Linked DNA regions of Homo sapiens. The protein of the gene in region 3 interacts with the protein of the main gene of each other region in a pairwise test. Each region holds a gene or a part of one and is shown on either strand. Other genes may lie near its edges.

Evidence for each region.
Region 1: the proteins of TCP11L1 (region 3) and ERCC6L2 interact in binary tests that used the Homo sapiens proteins (3 or more experiments, as listed by UniProt).
Region 2: the proteins of TCP11L1 (region 3) and WWTR1 interact in binary tests that used the Homo sapiens proteins (3 or more experiments, as listed by UniProt).

The regions. Positions count from the first base shown.
Region 1 is NC_000009.12:96,011,512-96,019,092, forward strand, and holds the end of ERCC6L2 (DNA excision repair protein ERCC-6-like 2), read left to right. Parts: intron 1-713; coding exon 714-1,692; 3' UTR 1,693-6,936; downstream 6,937-7,581. UniProt on the Homo sapiens protein: Promotes double-strand break (DSB) end-joining and facilitates programmed recombination by controlling how DNA ends are joined in a spatially oriented manner during repair.
Region 2 is NC_000003.12:149,516,261-149,522,132, forward strand, and holds the end of WWTR1 (WW domain-containing transcription regulator protein 1), read right to left. Parts: intron 4,730-5,872; coding exon 4,545-4,729; 3' UTR 975-4,544; downstream 1-974. UniProt on the Homo sapiens protein: Transcriptional coactivator which acts as a downstream regulatory target in the Hippo signaling pathway that plays a pivotal role in organ size control and tumor suppression by restricting proliferation and promoting apoptosis.
Region 3 is NC_000011.10:33,042,319-33,049,899, reverse strand, and holds part of TCP11L1 (T-complex protein 11-like protein 1), read right to left. Parts: intron 6,151-7,581; 5' UTR 6,127-6,150; coding exon 5,964-6,126; intron 1-5,963.

The DNA.
Region 1 (7,581 bases), on a different chromosome or scaffold from region 3:
CCCTAAATCTTTCTGCCTCTATCTTACCAAGGTTCTTGAAGGCCCATTTCCTCATACATGCATACAACAGCTTTTATTAGTATCTTACACTAAGAATACAACACATTTCTTCTAATAGCATCTCACTCCTTAGCTTAGGTGTCCATGCCAACTGGGGAAAAAATAGTCTAGGTTTATCAGTTTAGAACTTTCCTTTGGGCTCATCAAAAAGTCTTGTGCGATTTCTATGTTGTATTTGTAAAAGAAGGGGAAAAGGAGAGGGAAGGGAAAAAAATGTCTTTCTTAATTTTTCAGAATTTGCTCTTTTCGTTAAGATTCTTTGACAATTTCATTTCATGAGACTTGAATACAATATAGATTTTCAAGTACAGAGTCTATAAATCATGATCCTCATGTCAGTCATAAATTGGCTCAAAGGAGGAGTAGCATGCTGGGCCTCCATAATTCCCAGGAAATACCTAATATAATAGCATAAATCAAAATAACTTACAAAGCTGGTGATTTTGTGAGCTAAAATACTTTTCTCAGTAGCATAAGGGTAGAGGCCTCACTCTACTAGGATAAAATGCGTTTTCATTGTGGAATTCAGCAGACGTATGCTAAAGGAACAAGATTACCTTCTGTGGACTCTACATTTCCTCTTACTGGTGATGAGTTCTTTCAAAATAAAATGTAATGAAAATAACCACTAGTTTTGTTCATTTAATCTTTAGAAAACAATTTGAAGAAATGGCCTCTTATTTTAACTCGTCTTCTGTAAACGAATTTGCTAAACATATAACCAATGCCACATCAGAAGAACGACAGAAAATGCTAAGAGACTTTTATGCTTCTCAATATCCAGAGGTAAAAGAATTTTTTGTGGATTCTGTGTCACAATTCAACAATTCTTCCTTTGAGAAAGGAGAGCAGCGCACCCGGAAGAAATCTGATAAAAGAGAATCTCTTATAAAACCAAGGCTGTCAGATTCTGAAACCTTGTCATTTAAAGATTCTACCAACAAAATTTCTCAAGTTTGCAGCCTAAAAACATATAAAAGAAAATCAGTTAAGTTTCAGAATCATATTTCCTATAGAGAAGAGGTGTTTTTTAATGATGCAGAAACTAAGAAATCACCTGTTAGTTCTACTCAAGAGATTGACAGTGGGAAAAACAGCCAGGCATCCGAAGATACTGTGACATCCCGTTCTCTGAACAGTGAGTCTGAAACACGTGAGAGAAGGTTAGAAAATACCATGAAAGACCAACAGGACCTCACAAGAACGGGCATTTCAAGAAAAGAACCCCTTCTCAAATTGGAAAACAAAAAGATAGAAAATCCAGTGCTGGAAAATACTTCTGTGATAAGCTTACTTGGTGATACCTCTATTCTTGATGACCTTTTTAAAAGTCATGGGAACAGTCCCACACAACTGCCAAAGAAAGTTCTTTCAGGGCCCATGGAAAAAGCAAAACAGAGACCAAAAGATTTCTGGGACATCTTGAATGAGCAGAATGATGAGAGTCTTAGTAAACTCACAGACTTGGCAGTAATAGAGACTCTGTGTGAAAAAGCACCTCTAGCAGCACCCTTTAAAAGGAGAGAAGAGCCAGCAACTTCTCTTTGGAAATCAAATGAGAAATTTTTATGGAAGAAATTTAGCCCAAGTGATACAGATGAAAACGCAACCAATACACAGAGTACCACATAAGCATATAAATGAATTACTGCACCAGTAAACTGCTGCCATCACTGTTTACGGCACTGGATTCCACACTGATTCTATTATCTTGAACACAGTTGTTGACATATATTTTTATTAAATTATTGCTTTAGGATTTTTTGAAGTCTAAAGTATTGTCATGGATCTGTTTTTCTTGATATTTGATTTGATCTTTCAAGAATATGATTGTATTTATAGTATAAACCTCTGTTATGAATTAGAAAAGATTCTAGGTTTGTTAATAGGAGACCTGGGACATCTTTCTTACTATATTACATAATGATGTGACACTTGCCCCGGTGAGCATTGTTTCCCAGTATGAAAGATGAAGAGTCTGTACCGAATCAGCATGAGTGTCCTTCCAGTTTAAAAAAGCTTTGCTTCGCTCTCCTAATGGCTCATAGGCTGAATCATGTCTGCCCCTCAAATCAGGTGTATACCAATGTGTTTTTTACTAGCACTTGGGAAAGTTATTAAGTATTTTCTTTTTCCCTGGGCATCATGTTCTATTATTATTTTAGAAAAAAGTCATAATTGGTACTGAATATATGGTATATATAATATTAAAATGGTAATTTTGCAACAGCTCAAAATTAAAAGGTTAATGTTATACACTTTACTATATGAGCTGTGATTACTACCATTAGCCACAGATACCAGTGCCTCAACTTTTTATGTACCTATTGTGATTTAATGTAAATAAAGGTTTGTATAGTACTTTTGTAGTTCTTAAGTATGAAGAAATGGGTAAACTTTTTATTTTGTTAGAAACTGTTATATTTTGAGTGTAATATTTATGGTTTATAGCAAAATGAATGTGCTTATTGTTGAATGCATGTATTTAGAAGCCTTTACTCAGCCCCTGTGTTCTGTGCTAGGAGCTTGAGCTCTACAGGTAAGGCAGAGCTACCGGTGAATGAAAGGAAATCATGTCAGTGAAAAATCATGGTGGAAAGCCCCTGGCATCACATGTGCATGCTGTAGGCAGGACCTGAGCTGCCTCCGCTGCAGGTTCAGATGCACCGCTGCAGCTGTCCTTCAGTTAGTTCACAGGGCTGCAAGAGGAGGACACATCCCTCCAGAAAACAGCCTGAGCCGGGAACTGGCTGTGCTAAAGAGCACTGCTATCAAGTTGAGGAGAGAGGGCTTCCGTGTACTCAGGATGTAGAGTCATTGCTCAGAAGTGAACAAAAAATCAAAAACAAAAGTCTTCTCAAGGGACTGATCGGCCAAGTATGCTTTTCTTTAGAGCAATGTTTTGCCCTAGAGAATTGTAAAATTTATGTCATGACTCAGTACATATGTGTTCGTACATATATGATTGGAATAAAATGTTTATGAAATATTTACTCATAAGCCATGTAACATACTTTGACATTTTTCTCTTCTAGGATTGTGTTTGGTAGGGCAGTGGGTTTGTGTGTGTGTTAATCCTCTCACAACCCACTGAATTGAATTTCATGGCCCATGGTTAAGATCCACAGTGTGAAAACGCTGTTTTAAATTATATGAGTTCGTCATTTGTTTGCTCTGTGCAGCTGAGTTGTGTCCAGACTTACCAGATGGTATGTTTTGCCATTGAGGGGCCTTCTACACAATGAGTGCATGATATGGTCCTTGATAGACTTGACTTGTAGATGTTTTCAGCCTACAATGTGATCAGCTATCTGAGGAACTCCAGTAAGTAGATACCACTTCATTTCAGTTTATATACAAGACAATGTAGTTCAAACATTTTAATACCTTGTAAATTATGATATTCATATAAATATTAGCTCTATAGTCTTCATATATGTACAGTTTTTTTTTTTTTTTTTTTTTTTTTGAGATTGAGTCTCACTCTGTCACCCAGGCTGGAGTACAGTGGCATGATCTTGGCTCACTGCAACCTCCACCTCCCTCCCAAACAACTCTTATGCCTCAGCCTCCTGAGTAGCTAGGATTACAGGTGTGTACCACCACACTCAGCTAAACATTTTTTTTTTTTTTTGAGACGGAGTCTCACTCTGTCGCCAGGCTGGAGTGCAGTGGCTCGATCTTGGCTCACTGCAGCCTCCGCCCCCCGAGTCAAGCAATTCTCCTGCCTCAGCCTCCCGAGTAGCTGGGACTACAGGTGCGTGCCACCACGCCCAGCTAATTTTTTTGTGTTTTTAGTAGGGATGGGGTTTCACCATGTTGGCCAGGCTGGTCTCAATCTCCTGGCTGCAAGCGATCCACCTGCCTTGTCCTCCCAAAGTGCTGGGATTACAGGTGTGAGCCACCATGCCCAGCCAATAAATGCTATTAAAGAAACTTTTAGGCCGGGCACAGTGGCTCACGCCTGTAATCCCAGCACTTTGGGAGGCCGAGGCAGGCGGATCACAAGGTCATGAGATCGAGACTATCCTGGCTAACGCGGTGAAACCCCGTCTCTACTAAAAAAAAAAAAAATACAAAAATTAGCCAGGCGTGGTGGTGGGCGCCTGTAGTCCCAGCTACTCGGGAGGCTGAGGCAGGAGAATGGCGTGAACCTGGGAGGCAGAGCTTGCAGTGAGCCAGGATTGTGCCCCTGCACCCCAGCCTGGGTGACAGAGCAAGACTCCATCTCAAAAAAGGAAACTTTTATCAATAGTAGTCAAAATGGGAGCAAAAATGCAGAACTGGAGTTTAAAAATTAGTTTCCAACAGTTGTCAGTGAAATATTTATCACTATTATGTAGGAAAGTGTGTCAGGTGGAATGCAGAGTCCAGTATGAAAAGGAGCCTGTTTCAGAACGGAAACTGTCAGGTGGAGTGGACTCCCTGCAATGGAGTGATGGAAAGATTTGGTACAACCATTGATGACCTGAGAACAGACACTAGGAAGGTTTGACAAGATCCTTCCTACCCCCACTCCACTGGTGATGTGTCACCAAGTTCTGCTAACTAAATGGGTGGCCTCAAGCAAATCCCTTACCTCCTTTTAGCCTTAGTTTCCCCTTTAAATTGGTGATGGATTAGATCAGTGGTGGTCAGCCATTTTCTTAAAGCAACTGAACTGTATCTTAATCAGAAACTTAACTAGTAAAACAATTAAAATGCAAGTCTGTTGCTTCAAGCAACACCACTGTGGCTCCATGGAGCACTAATTTGAAAACCACAGAGATGAGATCATTTCTAAGAAAACCTTTCAACTTTGTTTCCATGATGCTACTTGCCACAATCTTTTTTACTTAAGCAATGATACCGTTTCTGGCTGAACACTCACCACACAGCTATTAATATTGGAAACTGAGGCAAGATACCAAGAGATTTTTGCACTTGAATTCCTCAGGGTTCTCTTACAGCCCTGAAAACACCTCTTCAAGGAAATAAATAACATCTGCAAATGGTGCAGCTGCCCCTAAGTATTCAAGGCAAAGAAGCCTTAGTTTGCAGAGATGATGATAAACTTTTCATCCTTCCACAGAAAATGAGAAAGCCACAGGAAATACACGGTTATTTTCTAATTAAAGTTCAATGTGTACGCTTTTAAATTCTGAAGTTATCCTTCTTTTATGATATCAAAATAGCCCTCTTTTTTGAAATGATGGTAGATCATACCTTTTGGTCTTTTTCATTGTCCTTACATAAAAGTTGGTAATCATATGTCAGTCCCAGAAGTTTTATTTGACACTTACTGGTCTATAAAATCCAAAGGAATGGGGATCACTGCCTGCCTTAAAGGTTTTTTTGTGTGTTTGTTTGTTTGTTTGTTTGCATGTGAAGGATTTTTATGTCACAAATCCAGCTAACAGTGGATCTAGGATCTAGGCCTCACCGAGGATGTCACTGAACCTGTCAGCCCCAATGACAGGCACACACCTTCAAAGAGCAAGAGTGCCCATCACTTTCTAGGCTCCTTGCCTGCTGCTCATTCCATCATCACGGATACAGACTTGTTTCTGGTTTCATCTTCCACCAGAGATTGCAAAGCATCCTCTGCCCAGTGCTTCTAGGAGGCCTTACTGGGATGGTTCATAAGCCACTTTCCTCTTGGTGACAGCCCCTGTACACTGTGGCATGTACGGCTGGCTCCACTTGGTATTTGTTGCAGGAGGGAAGAACATCTCACTTTTGCTTGGCTAAAGGGCCACCCCAGGAGAGCTATTTTGCCTCAGGGTCTTGCAGGGTTTCTCTAGGAAAACAGTGCATCTGATAGTTACTCTCTGCCCCTAGGAGGAAAGACAGATTCGCCCTTCCTTCCCAAGTCCCAGGCTGTGTGGTTCCCAGCCCCAAGGGTAGCAAGTCAGAACCTCCGGAGAGGCTTTTAAGCATGCACATGTCCAGGGTCCTCATCAAGAGACTGAATCAGGGGGTCTAGGGCTCAGCACAGGCACCCTTTTTGTTTTTGCAGTTTCACAGGAATTCTGATGTGCCAGTGATTGTCAGGTTTGTCCCTGGGCAGGACCCACCTGCCTGACCTTCTGTCCCCCTGGGACACAGTATTTCCAGAGAGGTGCTTCAGTTGCCCCACCACGACTTCCAGCGCCCCCCATCTCTGTATGCAGCTGAGCTCATGATGGAGCCCACTGTGTGCTTTTTGTTGTTGTTACATTCCTATAAAAATGTCCACGCATATTTGAACATCTGTGTTCATAGTGGCATTATTCACAATGGCTACAACACGAAGAAAGCATTCCAAGTACCTATCGATGAATAAGCAAAATATTACACACACAGGAATATTATTCAGCCTTGAAAGGAAATTCGGACACGTGCTACAACATAGATGAATCTTGAGGACGGTATGCAAAGTGAAATAAATCAGACACAGAAGGACAAATACTGTATGATTCCACTTATATAAAGTACCTAGATTAGTCAGATTCATAGAGACAAAGTAGAATGGTGGTTGCTAGACGCTGGAGGGAGGGGAGAAAGGGGAGTTATTAATGGGTGTAGAGTTTCTGTTACACAGGATGCAAAGTGGCCTGAAGATGGATGGTCGTGATGGTTGCACAGCAATGTGAATTTAATGACACTGAAGTGTACACTTAAAAGTCATTAAAATGCTAAATTTTGTATGTGTTTTACAATTTTAAAAATGGAAAAAAAGTAAGACCAAAAGCAACACCTCTCCAGAATGTGTGTTATATACCAAATTTTGATGTATGTGAGATTGCTGACTATATTTTACTTATCAATTTGAAATTATATTGTTTTTATGTTGACACTCCATATAAGCCATTATTTTGAAAAAAACATTTTCCTTATTAAAAGATTGGAAAAAAATTCACACATAGCATTGTTTTTCTTTTTTTGTAAGACAGAGTCTCACTCTGTCACCTAGGTTGGAGTGCAATGGCGCAATCATAGCTCACTGCAGCCTCGACCTCCCAGGATCAAGGGATCTTCCCACCTCAGCCTCCCAAGTAGCTGGGACCACAGATGTGCACCACCCTGCCCGGCTAATTTTTGCATTTTTTTTTTTTTTTTTAGAGACAGGGTTTCGCCATGTTGCCCAGGTCTGGTCTCGAACTTCTGGACTCAAGCAATCTGCCTGCCTTTGCCTGCATTGTTTTTCTATTATATTTCATGTATTTTATTTGCTTTGCTGCAGGTTAAACTATGATGTTTATATTTATTGCCTAAGTTTCCATTAAGACCAATCTTAATTATACCAACATGATACCTTTCTGCCATGGACAGAGATAATACTCATCTGACATTCTTGGTTTTTTGCTGCTCTGTCTTGTAGATAAGAATCAAGAATGCTTCTTTCTACAGATATCTTTTTCGTTAGCTAAATAGGCCTCGCAGTCTCGTTGAAAGAAATAACTAAAACTCACTTTATGTTGTTTCAGTTTATCTGGCAGGGGGAAAAATGCGTGTGCAGCTCTGAATTTCTAATACGTCTCTAAGGAAACTCCAATGAGT
Region 2 (5,872 bases), on a different chromosome or scaffold from region 3:
CCCTTAGTCCTGGGCAAACCAGGAGAGTTGTCACCTTACTTCTGGTCCTCAAACTGCAAACCAATGTGCCATGCATTACTTTGACCTAATGACTTACAAGCAGAAAAGGTTATTTAGGACACGTAAGCTTCCCCAGCATATTCTATCTGTGACCCCTATAAATAAATATTTCTAAACACAATTCTCTGCTAATTACAGTTCAAGGTTTTATCAACTCAAACTTTTAAGTTACAAGAAACCGATTTCAAAAACAGCCAGTAGGAAAAGGTTGCAGAGTCTAGGTCAATGAAAGAGTTCCAGCAAGCCTATGAGCCACTGGGAATTCAGTCATTATTTATCTAAATTTCTGATTTGGAATGAGGTTGGTAAATTAGTCACCAGCCAGTTTCATCTTCTATAAACTTTCCATTCACATTATTGATCCATATTTCTATTGGGCTGTTTGTTTTTTCTATTGGTTTATAAGAGTTTGTTGTATATTCTACACCACCATACCTGGCTAATGTTTATATATTTTTGTAGAGACAAGGTCTCACAATGTTACCCAGGCTGGTCTCAAACTGCTGGGCTCAAGCAATGCTCCCGCCTCAGCCTCCCAAATTGCCAGGATTACAGGCATAAGCCATCGTGCCCAGCAAGAATCCTGTATTTTTGATGGTCTTGTCAAATCTGTGAGGGTGTTGGGAGGACAATGATGTGATATATATATATTTAAAGGTATATGTTTTTATTTTTAAAGGTGTATATATACACCTTTAAAAACCTCAGTGGACATTGTAAATAAAGTGGAAACTAGAATTCTGTGAACATTTAGAATGTTGAAGGCCAGGCACGTGAGCCAAGAAATTGTTTGCCTGCAGATTTTTCTTTCTTTCATTGTCTGCCAGGAGGGTTACATAAGCCTGTCTTCAGTACCACCCAAATCCCCTAGTAAAAGGAACACAGACAAATAATGAAAAGTCAAAAGCTCCAAGTGGAAGTTCAATTGTCTTTATTTTTCTTATACAGATTCAGAGAAGTAAAAACCAGTACCAAACTCCAGGTAAAATGGTTTGATCTGATCGATTTGGCTGCATACTTTCGGTACGTATAACATTCTAAACTTAAAATAGAAATTTTTATATTACAAAACGTAGAAGTAAAATTTTAAAAAGTTAAAGTACTAGCACATATATGTGTTAGGAAAATGGTCTCTGTCAATTGCCCATTTTCCCAATTAAATTAACCTACGATTTCCTTTTTTTAACAGCTTATTTTTTTCATAAAAGTTGTACTTTGAGAAGTTACTTTCTAATTACGTCATGAGAACACAACTTGTAATTAGCAACACTTCTGTCAGTCTAGATCACTTCTTCTGCAGAGAGCTTTTCAACCAAGTTGGCATCAACCAGCACAATAAAGTTTTCACTGTTTTACCTGTTTCCTGTATATGGTGTAATCAGTGAAAGAAATGGCATTTCACATCCTAAATAATACGGTGAAACACTGTCTAAAAATTACTTAGATTTAACAGAATTGCAATTAGGTTTTGACAATGTATTTACTTCAAGACAATGTATTTTATCAGGAAAAAATATCTTGAAAGAAAGATCTCTGAAATTATTTTTCATTTGATACGCCTTTTCTGTGACAAAATTTTGGGGTGAAATGATGATGTTTACTGATTGATTTAGTACTAAAAAGACTAGTACTAAGAAGACTAAAGACAGTTATCTTATAATAAGAAATATAGTATAAATAGCACCTTATCAAGAATTCTGCAGGGGTTTTAACACTTACAATAATAGGAAATAGCCATTAAAAAGTTGCTCTAACTTTAGATTTCTAACTTTAGTGTTCTTTAACAAAGGCCATATTTTGTGGCCTTAAAAACAAAAAATTATATCTGGCTTTATCTATTAGTAAACACAAAGGGTCCATATTTTATTCTGAAAAAATATTTATTATATTCATTCATAAATGTTCTAACTAATTTAACTAAAAAAATCTTCTAGTATTTTCTGATGCCACAAGCTTACTAGAAAATTACTTCTAAAAATTGGTAATATAAATCATCAATGATTTACCTACTTTAAAAAAGAGGGGTATCTGTTTCTCTTACATTTAATAACCTGAAAATGAGTCTATAAAAATATTTTTTAAAAATACAGTAACACTGCTGAGTTTTGTTAGGTCCCTTGTTTTTTTAATTTTTTATTTATTTATTTATTTTTAGCAAGAATGTACAATTCTTTTTGCAATTTTTTGCTAACAAAAGACAAAAAGAAATAGTGCTCCCTTCAATTTAGTAGCAATAAAATCATCTATCTTCATCTCTCTCAGAGGGCTTAGGGAGAGTGAAAGGAATTAGAGGAACATAAACCATGGGTCCTTCAGGTAAAATAAGTCATTTCATAGTGATGGAGGCAACAGCAGGCTACGCTCTTGTCTGCCTGTACGCTCAGCATCAGCATGCCCTGCCCCTCCTCCTCCCACATAAGGTGCACCAAAGCCTTCTTTTCTTCTACAACAGAGTCTTCCGGTATAAAGGTGGCAACAGAAAATTGTTGCTTTGTCCTTTTGGGGCATCTCTTGCATCTCCTGCTTGTTTTGCTTTTGGGGTACTATAACTTGTCTCTTTCCATTTCACAACTAGTATCCTTTCCACGATATTCCATAACTTTGCTACTTCATCTCTGACCTTTTCACTTGCCTTCTTTCCAACATGATCCAATGTACTCTGTACATGTATATTCCGGTAGATCAAAAGGAATCTTATTTAAGATCCCCAACAAATAAGTCCCCCATGGAAATTGAAAGTATCCTCTCAGAGACTCAAATTATTAAAGTCTTTCAAAAAAGATTAAATTCATAGATTATAAATAATATTAGTTCAAAATATTAAACAGTTGAGGACTTCATTGGCAATGCAGGCAGACTGCATGCCAGTTGAACATGATGCTCTCTCAGTCCTTAAAAGCTAATTAAAAATGGTTTTGGTTACATAAGAGGTATTGAATACATATTTCATGCCTTTTTATACCAACTGTAGCAAACAGGATTAGGATAATATACTTAGGAATCAATTTTACTGAATTCAGAAACATTTATCTCCACCATACACCCTCAAAGGGCATTTTTTTTTACATGTCAGTCAGAGATCTGCTTCATCCTTCAGTTTCATAGATAGAATTATTTTAAACACTTGAAATCTAGGAAGCAAACCTGACAAGGCTTCAGAATTTAAAAAGCAACAGCTCACTGTGTGTGGTGTGCTATCAGGTTGAAATCTATGTTGTCCTGATGTTTTCAGAGTTATTTCAAAAGACAAAAATACAGTTGCCACTGATTTATCAAAAACATTTGGCTGCCTTTTGTCATCAGCTACAAAATTACAGTGCTTTATAAAATAAACATCAAGGCCGGGTGCGGTGGCTCACGCCAGTAATCCCAGCACTTTGGGAGGCCGAGATGGGTGGATCACCTGAGATCAGGAGTTTGAGAACAGCCTGACCATTATGGTGAAACCCCGTCTCTACTCAAAATACAAAAAATTAGCCGGACGTGGTGGCAGGTGCCTGTAATCCCAGCTACTCGGGAGGCTAAGGCAGGAGAATCGCTTGAACCCAGAAGGCAGAGGTTGCAGTGAGCCGAGATTGTGCCATTGCATTCCAGCCTGGACAACAAGAGCAAAACTCGATCTCAAAAACAAACAAACAACATCAAGAAAAAAAAAAACCATCAGATTCTAAGCTGCAATTTTTTAAATCCCCAGTTGTAATATTTCAAAAACTTTTGTTTGAATAAAATGCTCATAATTAGTACCAAACTGGTCTCTTTCACAAGATCTGTAGTGTAAGACCTGTGACTAATGCTGCTGCTGCTACTTTCCCGCTGGAGGGACTAAGTTGTCTAGATGCTCTGCAGTAAAATAACGAAAGATAAGCTACAATAGGACTGTGTGCCTTTATAAATACAGACTAATAAGAGCCATCAGAGCCAGCATGGATTCAAAATTACATTGTATTCCATACAGTAGAATTTTACTATCCATACAATGATTTTTAAAGCTCAAGTTAAATAGTTTTTAAAGCATTTGGTACTACTGTCATCAATACAGTTTTTGAAACTGTAAATCAGGTCGAATTTTGTGCACATTTCCTGGACCAAGATGCCCTCAGAAGTAACTGCCTGTGGTCAGCTTTTTATGGTTTAAAATCAATTGGTGTATAAATTTCAATTAACACCCATAAAGCTTAGCCATGGGGCAGCAGAGAAGAAAGAGAAAAGTATTCTGCATAATCAATCCTGCAGACACAATTCTGTATAATCTGTCACAAGAACGCAGGCTTGCAGAAAATGAAAATAGAATATTTATTTATGTTTAACTTAAGTTACTCTCAATCAAAACCAGGCAATGATTAAACTGGCAACATAAAAAGGAGGGAGCACGAGTCATGGAGGCGGGAAGTGGTGCACCTGCAGACTTGCTCTGCTCCATCACTTTTTCCAAGAGGCCCAGGAAATGTAAGGTCATGGCTACATCCAAGTTACAATGGTAGTGATTACAGCCAGGTTAGAAAGGGCTCACTTTTGTTCAGAGCAGACTCTACATCATTGAAGAGGGGGATCAGGTCTTCAGATTCCAAAGTTCCTAAGTCAACGTTTGTTCCTGGAAGACAGTCAAGGAAATCAGGGAAACGGGTCTGTTGGGGATTGATGTTCATGGGTGTTTGTCCTGCGTTTTCTCCTATAACAAAATGAAAAGAAACCATTTTAATTCCTTCTTTTAGGCTCTTGAAGGAGGAACAGTTCAAGTATTTACATAACCCTCACCTTCATGTCTTCAACTACCACATTATTGACCCTTACTCATAAGAGGTACAGAGATGTGGAAGAAATCGAAAATTATTTCTGGATAGGTGTGGTCCAGAATGGAAAAGGCCAAGGAGATAAGAAAGGAGCATGTGAAAGGCACTGTGGATCTGATCTATGATCTGTGCCTTCCCATGACAAAGGTGTGAAGAACTGTTTTACAAAAGAGTAGAGAGGCCTTGTCTGTAATAAACAGCTTATTACAGAACTATAATCTACAGGTTTCATTGTAAGCTTAGGTTTACCCATACCATCCTTCTTTATGTTCAAAGAGAATGGTGTGAAGCTTCTTTTAACCAGGCTATTAAAAAGTTGTCTTCATTGATGACTTTAGGCATCATTTATAAAGGCAGTTCTGCAGACGTTTTCCCTCTTTCTGTAATACCTACACCCTACAACTATCTGCCTTTCTCACAAGCATATGAGCACAGTGCATATGAGCATGTTAAGGCTTTAAGTCTTAGAGTAAAGAAATCTTTTGTTTTCTTTAAGACACTATTTCCTAAACCCATTTAATCACCTAAACCTATTTTGGCAGTATGTGTATTCAAATAAAACTGAAGTTCTACAGAACACAGGTGAGAAAATGCTGTACTAGAGGAAAAGTAGGTGTCTGGGATATGACATGAAGAATATAGGTTCTTTATGTGTCATAGTATGGGACAGAATGCACTACTGACTTTGGTGTCATTAGATCGAGCTTTGTGGCTGTGTAAGCTTAGACACACTTAACCTGCCTGATTCTCAGTTTACCCATCTAGAAATTGGGATCATATGCTCCTTTTACAAAAGTTAGAGTAAAGTGCCATATAGTGTCTGCCACATATCCATGGCTCTGGGTGTCATTGATATATACAAAGTTATATACATACAAAAATATAATAAATGTTCATTGTCCTGAGAGAAAGAAAAACCCAGGTCTTCAGCCACTATTAATTACACAATATCAAAACAACAGGTTAATTCAAAAAGTCCCAAACAATTTTCTGAAGAGATAATATCTACTTCAAAAATTGAG
Region 3 (7,581 bases):
AAGGGAAAGACCTGATCATCCCCCAGCCCAACACCTGTAAAGGGTCTGTGCTGAGGAGGATTAGTAAAAGAGGAAGGCCTCTTTGCAGTTGAGATAAGAGGAAGGCATCTGTCTCCTGCTCATCCCTGGGCAATAGAATGTCTTGGTGTAAAACCCAATTGTATGTTCTATTTACTAAGATAGGAGAAAACTGCCTTAGGGCTGGAGGTGAGGTGCTAGCGGCAATACTGCTCTTTAATGCACCCAGAAGTTTGTATCCGTGCACATCAAGGCACAGTACCTTTCCTTAAACTTATTTATGACACAGAGACCTTTGTTCACAGGTTTCCTGCTGACCCTCTCCCCACTATTACACTATTGTCCTGCCACAACCCCCTCTCCAAGATGGTAGAGATAATGATCAATAAATACTGAGGGAACTCAGAGACAGGGTGCAGGTCCCCTGGGCCCACTTTTCTTTCTCTATACTTTGTCTCTGTGTCTTATTTCTTTTCTCAGTCTCTCGTCCCACATGACGAGAAACACCCACAGGTTGTGGAGGGGCAGGCCACCCCTTCAAAAATAATCAATGTCTTACCATCTGAAATTTATGAAAACAACAGAAATACATCACATCAAGTCCTCTGGGTGAATTTTTTTTTTTTTTTTTTTGAGACGGAGTCTTGCTCTGTCACGAGGCTGGAGTGCAGTGGCGCGATCTCGGCTCACTGCAACCTCCGCCTCCCGGGTTCAAGTGATTCTCCTGCCTCAGCCTCCCAAGTAGCTGGGACTACAGGCGTGTGCCACCACACCCAGCTAATTTATGTATTTTTAGTAGAGACAGGGTTTCACCATGTTGGCCAGGATGGTCTTGATCTCTTGACCTCATGATCCACCTGCCTTGGCCTCCCAAAGTGCTGGGATTATAGGCATGAGCCACCGCGCCTGGCCGGATTTGTTATTTCCCAATAATTTTAGTCATCTGGGTAATAATAGGCACCGTTACTATGCTGCCTAGTCATGAAACACAGTGGCTGGAGCAAATCAGGAAGGAATTTCACTTCCTCTGGACTCTGTTGAGTACGGCCTTGAACAAGTCACTTAAATCTTGCAGGGTCAGTGTTTCTCCATATGCAAAAAGAAGAGACTTAAGGGTGTGCTATGAAATATAAGAATCCTCCGAATTTTAAACAAGTGCATTCTCAGTGTTTTGGGCATACTTGGAAAAAAACAGCTTGCACCAAGTACTAAGAACCTCACCATTAGGAAGAAGAAAATTTTCAGGAACTGTCCAAGTTAAGAGACTACTTAAAATCAAACTTATCAATGACAGGTATCTGATCATGATAGATAAAAGCTACAGTTCTAAGATATGATCAGGACATGTTACCGATGTACATACAGAGGAATTATTCACTGCATACAAATTATAGGGTTGTGGGGATTTTGTTTTGTGAGAGTTCTCAAATTTACCAATTTCATAAATGAAAACTTGGTAAGGATTGCATAAAATTGCATAAAGATGCAATTTGGTGGACAACACGTCTTCACCTCAATTTGTTAAGAGAACCTGGGTTGTAATAAGAGCCATGAAAAATGGTAAGGTCAACTCAGACATGGTGGTGCACACTTGTAGTCTCAGCTACTAGGGAGGTTGAGGTGGGTGAATCACTTGAGCCCAGGAGTTCAAGGCCAGCCTGGGCAACATAGAGTGATCCGGTCTTAAAAAAAAAAAATGTAAAGATACATGTAACTTACCCTGGAGTTTATCTTACGTGATACAAAGCTAAAGTTGTTGCTAAATTTTGTTATTTTGTTACAGCATTTGCGCACTGATGCCCTGTTAGAGAAACTGAAAACCATATTAGGTTAAACATGACTTTAGAGAGGCTGGCAGACAGATTCCAAAATAAAATGAAGTTCTAATTTAGAATGGTTGTACTCTCTATCTTTACTAAGGTGTCCTGAGATGCCTATACACTCTGAAAAGATGCTGTTAGTTACATAAGTGGACGGACATTTATGGAGGGCAAGATTGCAACTGTCACCCAAACAGCTACTATAGAATGAGCACAGTAAAACCAGGGTACAGATTACCCATAGTACTTATTATGTTGTTGGAAACTGCTTGTTAATTTGTCTTCCTGGTCGCTAGCCTGCAAGCTCCATGAGGACAGAGACAATATGTGCCTGGTTCACTGCTGGATCCCTGACATACAGTATGCACTCAATAAATATTTGACTGACTGAATACAGAGACACCATAATTCAAAGTCTAGTCATGAGCTTTAGAAATGTAAGTTCTCGTGTCATCTATTCATCTAAAGATGACTGGGATCTACTAATTAAATTCACAAGGACCTGATCCAATAAACAAAGGTCCTAAGTGGGAGATATTAACTGGAATAACAATTGATGTTTGTCATCTGAATATAGCATCTTTTACTGGTCAACTAGGTGATTAAACGTTAGAACAGAGGGTATTTTGTGAGAAGAGCATTAAAGTATAAGTAGTAGAAGATTTTAGAGAAAACATTGTTAAGTTACAGTTGACTGATCCTTACTCTGTTTAAAGAACAGATAATCTTTTACAATCAAATCACCACCTCAAATCAGTACCAATAAATTTTTTACAAGCCAGCCATTTTTCCTTTTTCAATATTCTGCATCGGTTACATCAGAATTCTACTCTTTTTTTTTTTTTCTTGAGATGAAGTTTCGCTCTTGTCCCCTAGGCTGGAGTGCAATGGCACAATCTCGGTTCACTGCAACCTCTGCTTCCCAGGTTCAAGTGATTCTCTTGCCTCAGCCTCCCAATTACAGGCACACACCACCACTCCCGGCTAATTTTTGTATTTTTAGTAGAAACAGTGTTTCACCATGTTGGCCAGGTTGGTCTCGAACTCCTGACCTCACCTCAGGTGATTCACCTGCCTCAGCCTCCCAAAGTGCTTATAGGCATGAGCCAATGCGCCTGGCCTAGCAACTCCACTCTTAAAGTATTACTCTGTGTTATAATTTAAAACAATAAATGTTCTCTTTTTGCTACTTACGTTTTAATTTGTAGAATTCCAAATATGATTTTAGAGTTACTTTAAACTCAGTAGCTACAAATTTACAGAGTTTGGGGGAAATGTCTGTAAACTGTTAATTCCATATTTTGTAAATCCTTATTTATGCTCTATGTGTTCAATAATGCTTCCTTACCTGATGCCCAGATAATGAGGTCTTAGCTTTATCTTTTGGGTTTATAGCCCTGTACCTACCTAGCACTACAGGAGAAATAGGAAGGCAGCCAAAAGGAATACCTTAGGGCATTGATTTTAAACCTTATTTTGGTACAGACTACTAAGAGAACTTAATGAAAGCTTCCACGACCTTATTCCTAAAAACATGCATATACAAACAAATGTTGATATACTTTTTTGGTTATTACTAGATCCCCTAAATCTTGATCATAGGTCCCAGGATAAGTATTCTTGCCTTAAGGGCATAACTACACACAATTTCAGATAATGTAGCTTAGTACTGGTTTGACATTAATTTGGAATCATGCCATCAGGCTGACAAGATGCCAAAGGCGAAGCCATCAACCAAAGAATGGCTGAACCTATAAAAGTTAAAATTGTTTAAAAAAATTAAAACCAATCAACCAACTGTTGGGAGAAGCTAAAGCAGGGCTTGCATGTCTCACTTAATGTAAAAGAGTCTTGGAACATGTCCAGGGTCCAGGGTCTAAAACCCCTCATGGCCTTGGGAACACCAAGCTCTGTGCTAAAGGGCAGAAGGCTGCCCTGCAGCACCATAATCTAAGCCCAGGGCATAAAACCCTTCGTGGCTTGAATGGAATCCAGGGCTCAGGGCGTGGCCTCTGGAATGTGTCTAGACTTGCTGGCTCCTTGCTTCTAGCACTCCTAGGCTCATAGATCTATTGTATCTTAAACTAGAACATGTTTCCCATTATCTCAAGTAGCAGAACATGTTCCATATGCTGCAAAGAAAATGCTAAACCGTCACAGCTGTAGATCATGTGCTTGATACACTGCTTTCTTTCAACCCCCACATCCTCACCACCTGCTTCTTTGTTTCATCACCAATGAATAGTGCAGGCTTCCAGAGCTCGGGGCCTTCGCAGCCTCCATACTAGCATTGGCCCCCGGACCCACTTTATGCACTCTTAAACTTGTCTTTTTCATTCTTTTGACTCCACTGGACTTCGTCACCTCCACGTTGGGTCTGGCCATCCCAACAACCAACCAACCAATAAAGGGTGACTGAAGACCTAAACCAAAAGTTCTTCTTTAGCAGAAACTATAGGTTGTAAAGCTATCATGTTAGCCATATACATCTACATTACAGCAATCAATCCTGGCCTCTTTATTTTTTTTATTTTTATTTTTTTGAGAGAGGCTTGTCTCACTCTGTCATCCAGGCTGGAGTGCGGTGACACAATCACGGCTCACTGCAGCCTTGACTTCCCCAGCTCAAGTGATCCTCCTGTCCCCGCCTCCCAAGTAGCTGGGACTACAACCACGTGCATGCTCAGCTAATTTTTTTTTTTTTTTTTTGAGACAGGGTCTTACTTTGTCACCCAGACGGGAGTGCAGTGGCGTGATCTCGGCTCACTGCAGCCTCCACCTCCCAGGCTCAAGTGATCCTCCTGCCTTAGCCCCACAAGTAGCTGGGACTATAGGCATGCACCACCATGCCTGGCTAATTTTTATTTTTTGTAGAGATGGGGTCTCATTATGTTGCCTAGGCTGGTCTTGAACTCCTGGACTCAAGTGATCTTCCTGCCTCAGCCGCCCAAAGTGCTGGTATTACAGGTATGAGCCACCATGCCTGGCCAATCCTGGCATCTTTAAATGCAATAGATGACATAATGTTAGTAGCAATAGTAGTAACAACAACTAATGTTTATTAAGCATTTATTACCTGTGAAGCACTGTTCTAAGTGCCTTATAGGAATTCATTTAATCTTTACTGCTACCCCAAGAAATATTGTATTTTCCTCATTTTAAAGACAGGAAAACAGAAGCTTTCTAACTACACATATTGGAGTCAGGCCTGACAAATGCATGATAGACTGTGCTAGCAACAACATGTTTCCTTGGACACAATTTGACCTAATAGTTGATTTATTAAAATCTATGTGATAATAAATCAGAATAAAATAGGGTCCATTAATGTTTGCTAGAAGAATAGTATGTTGACTAATAAATTGCCCGGGAAGGGCTTTGATCATTTTAGAAGAAACACACCCCAAAACCCAAAAATGTCTGTACTTTTTCCAAATACGTACAACTACTGATCATCTACAATTTAAAGGGATAACATCAATACCGACATTCTTAGACTATGACATTCCCTCTTAAAAACTTGCATTTTTGGACTCACTTCAAAATGCTTAAGGTACTCTTCATAAAAGACGTGAGTTGAGGCAACCACTGGGAATGCCTGAAGATATTGCCACCCTTTCATTTAAGAGGCTTGCTCCTTGCCAGGGATCTGAAATGACTTCACCACACACATTTAGCAAACTGAATCCCCTCAAGCTTGTGGGAACTAAGCCCCCAGGCAGAGAATTAGGGTGTGGTGAACTTACTCACATTTTTTTTTAACCTGCACAAGCACAGTCCTGGCTGGAATTAGCCTCAGACTTTTCAAACACTCTTTCAATACAAGCTGCAATTTATACTCCACCCTCCTATTTCTCAGAGCACTTCAGAGACTGGAGTGTCACTGAGGCTGGAGAAAGACAGGAACGTTCTGGACATTATTCTAAATTGTTAATTTCCCATGCAATTGAAAATCCACAAGTAGCTAGGCTGCCAGCTGAGGAACTGCTATTATTCCTAAATGCTACATTGGCAATGTTATATTATTAGAACCTAGCTCACGGCCACATGCACAAGGAGGCCTCATAAAACCGTCACCTGAAAACAATGACAATATTGCATCTAACCAAAGTCAAATTTGCTTACAGTGAGGTCTCTGCACTCTTTGGGGGCTGGAGGAGTCTGACTTTATTGCTTTTTGTAAGGCTTCATCAGCACCTTCCACAGCATCTTCGAGGCCTTCCTCAGAATCATTGGATTTTGATTTTCCTGCTTCATTTACATTGGACTTGTCAAGGTTTTCAGACATTCTCAATTAAGTTTATTCACTTTCCTAGGAAAGAAAAAAACAAAAAAAAAGAACTAAAAGTATTCTAGCTCTGTCACCAACTAGCAATGTGACTCAGGGCAAATCATTTAACCTCTTTGGGTTTCAGTTTTCTCGTTTGTAGAATAAATGAGCTTGCTAAGATCTTATCCAGCTATATTCTACTTCAATGACTAAACAGATACTTGTAAAATGACATTTGTAATTTATCAGATTTCTGGATCTCACGTAGTAGTTAGTTGGAATATTTTTGTCCTACTCCTAAGTAGCATGTTTCAAGAATACAGGGCCTTAAACTATTAGAAGACACACTCTAAACTACCTGCTGCTACAATTTTAATCAGTGATTCAATCTTAAATTCTTTACTTTCATTCCTAAGAGCAGATAGGTAAACTCCTTGGAAATAATGCTTTTAATTGGGCTTACAAGTGAATACACTGGGCTAAAGGGTTGATTCCTTGATATTATCATGTGAATAAGATACCCAGAGATGACAGAAACTAGAATTTTTTTTTTTTCCAGATGGAGTTTTGCTCTTGTTGCCCAGGCTGGAGTGCAATGGGGCAATCTCAGCTAACTGCATCCTCCGCCTGCTAGGTTTCAGCAATTCTCCTGCCTCAGCCTCCCAAGTAGCTGAAATTACAGGTGGGTGCCACCACGCCCAGCTAATTTTTGTTTTGTTTTGTTTTGAGACAGAGTTTCGCTCTTTCATCCAGGCTGGAATGCAGTGGTGCGATCTCAGTTTACTGCAACTTCCACCTTCCGGTTTCAAGTGATTCTCCTGCCTCAGCCTTCTGAGTAGCTGGGATTATAGGCGCCCACCACCATGCCTGGCTGATTTTTGTATTTTTAGGAGAGATGGGGCTTCACCATGTTGGCCAGGCTGGTTTCGAACTCCTGACCTCATGATCCACCTGCCCTGGCCTCCCAAAGTGCTGGGATTACAGGCGTGAGCCACTGCGCCTGGCCTAATTTTGTATTTTTAGTAGAGACGGGGTTTCACCATGTTGGTCAGGCTGGTCTCGAACTCCTGACCTCAGGTGATCCACCTGCCTCGGTCTCCCAAAGTACTGGGATTACAGCCATGAGCCACTGCGCCCTACAGAAAACAGAATCTTATGAAATGTTTAAGAGGAATGTGTGGGGCAAATATTTTTATTACCTTCTTGCCAGTAATTAGGAAAAAGATTGTGAGTAAGAAGCTGCAAACAACCATAATGTATGCAGTTGGGTGGGCTTTTTATTAGTTGCTGATCAGAATAGCAATAACACTTGACACTGTGCTTTGGAGCAGTTAATAAAAGGTCTGCCTGGGCCTCCCAAAGTGCTGGGATTACAGGCATGAGCCACCGTGCCCAGCCTAAAACAGGCCTAAAACAGGCGGATCATGAGGTCAAGAGATCGAGACCATCCTGGCTAACACGCTGAAACCCCGT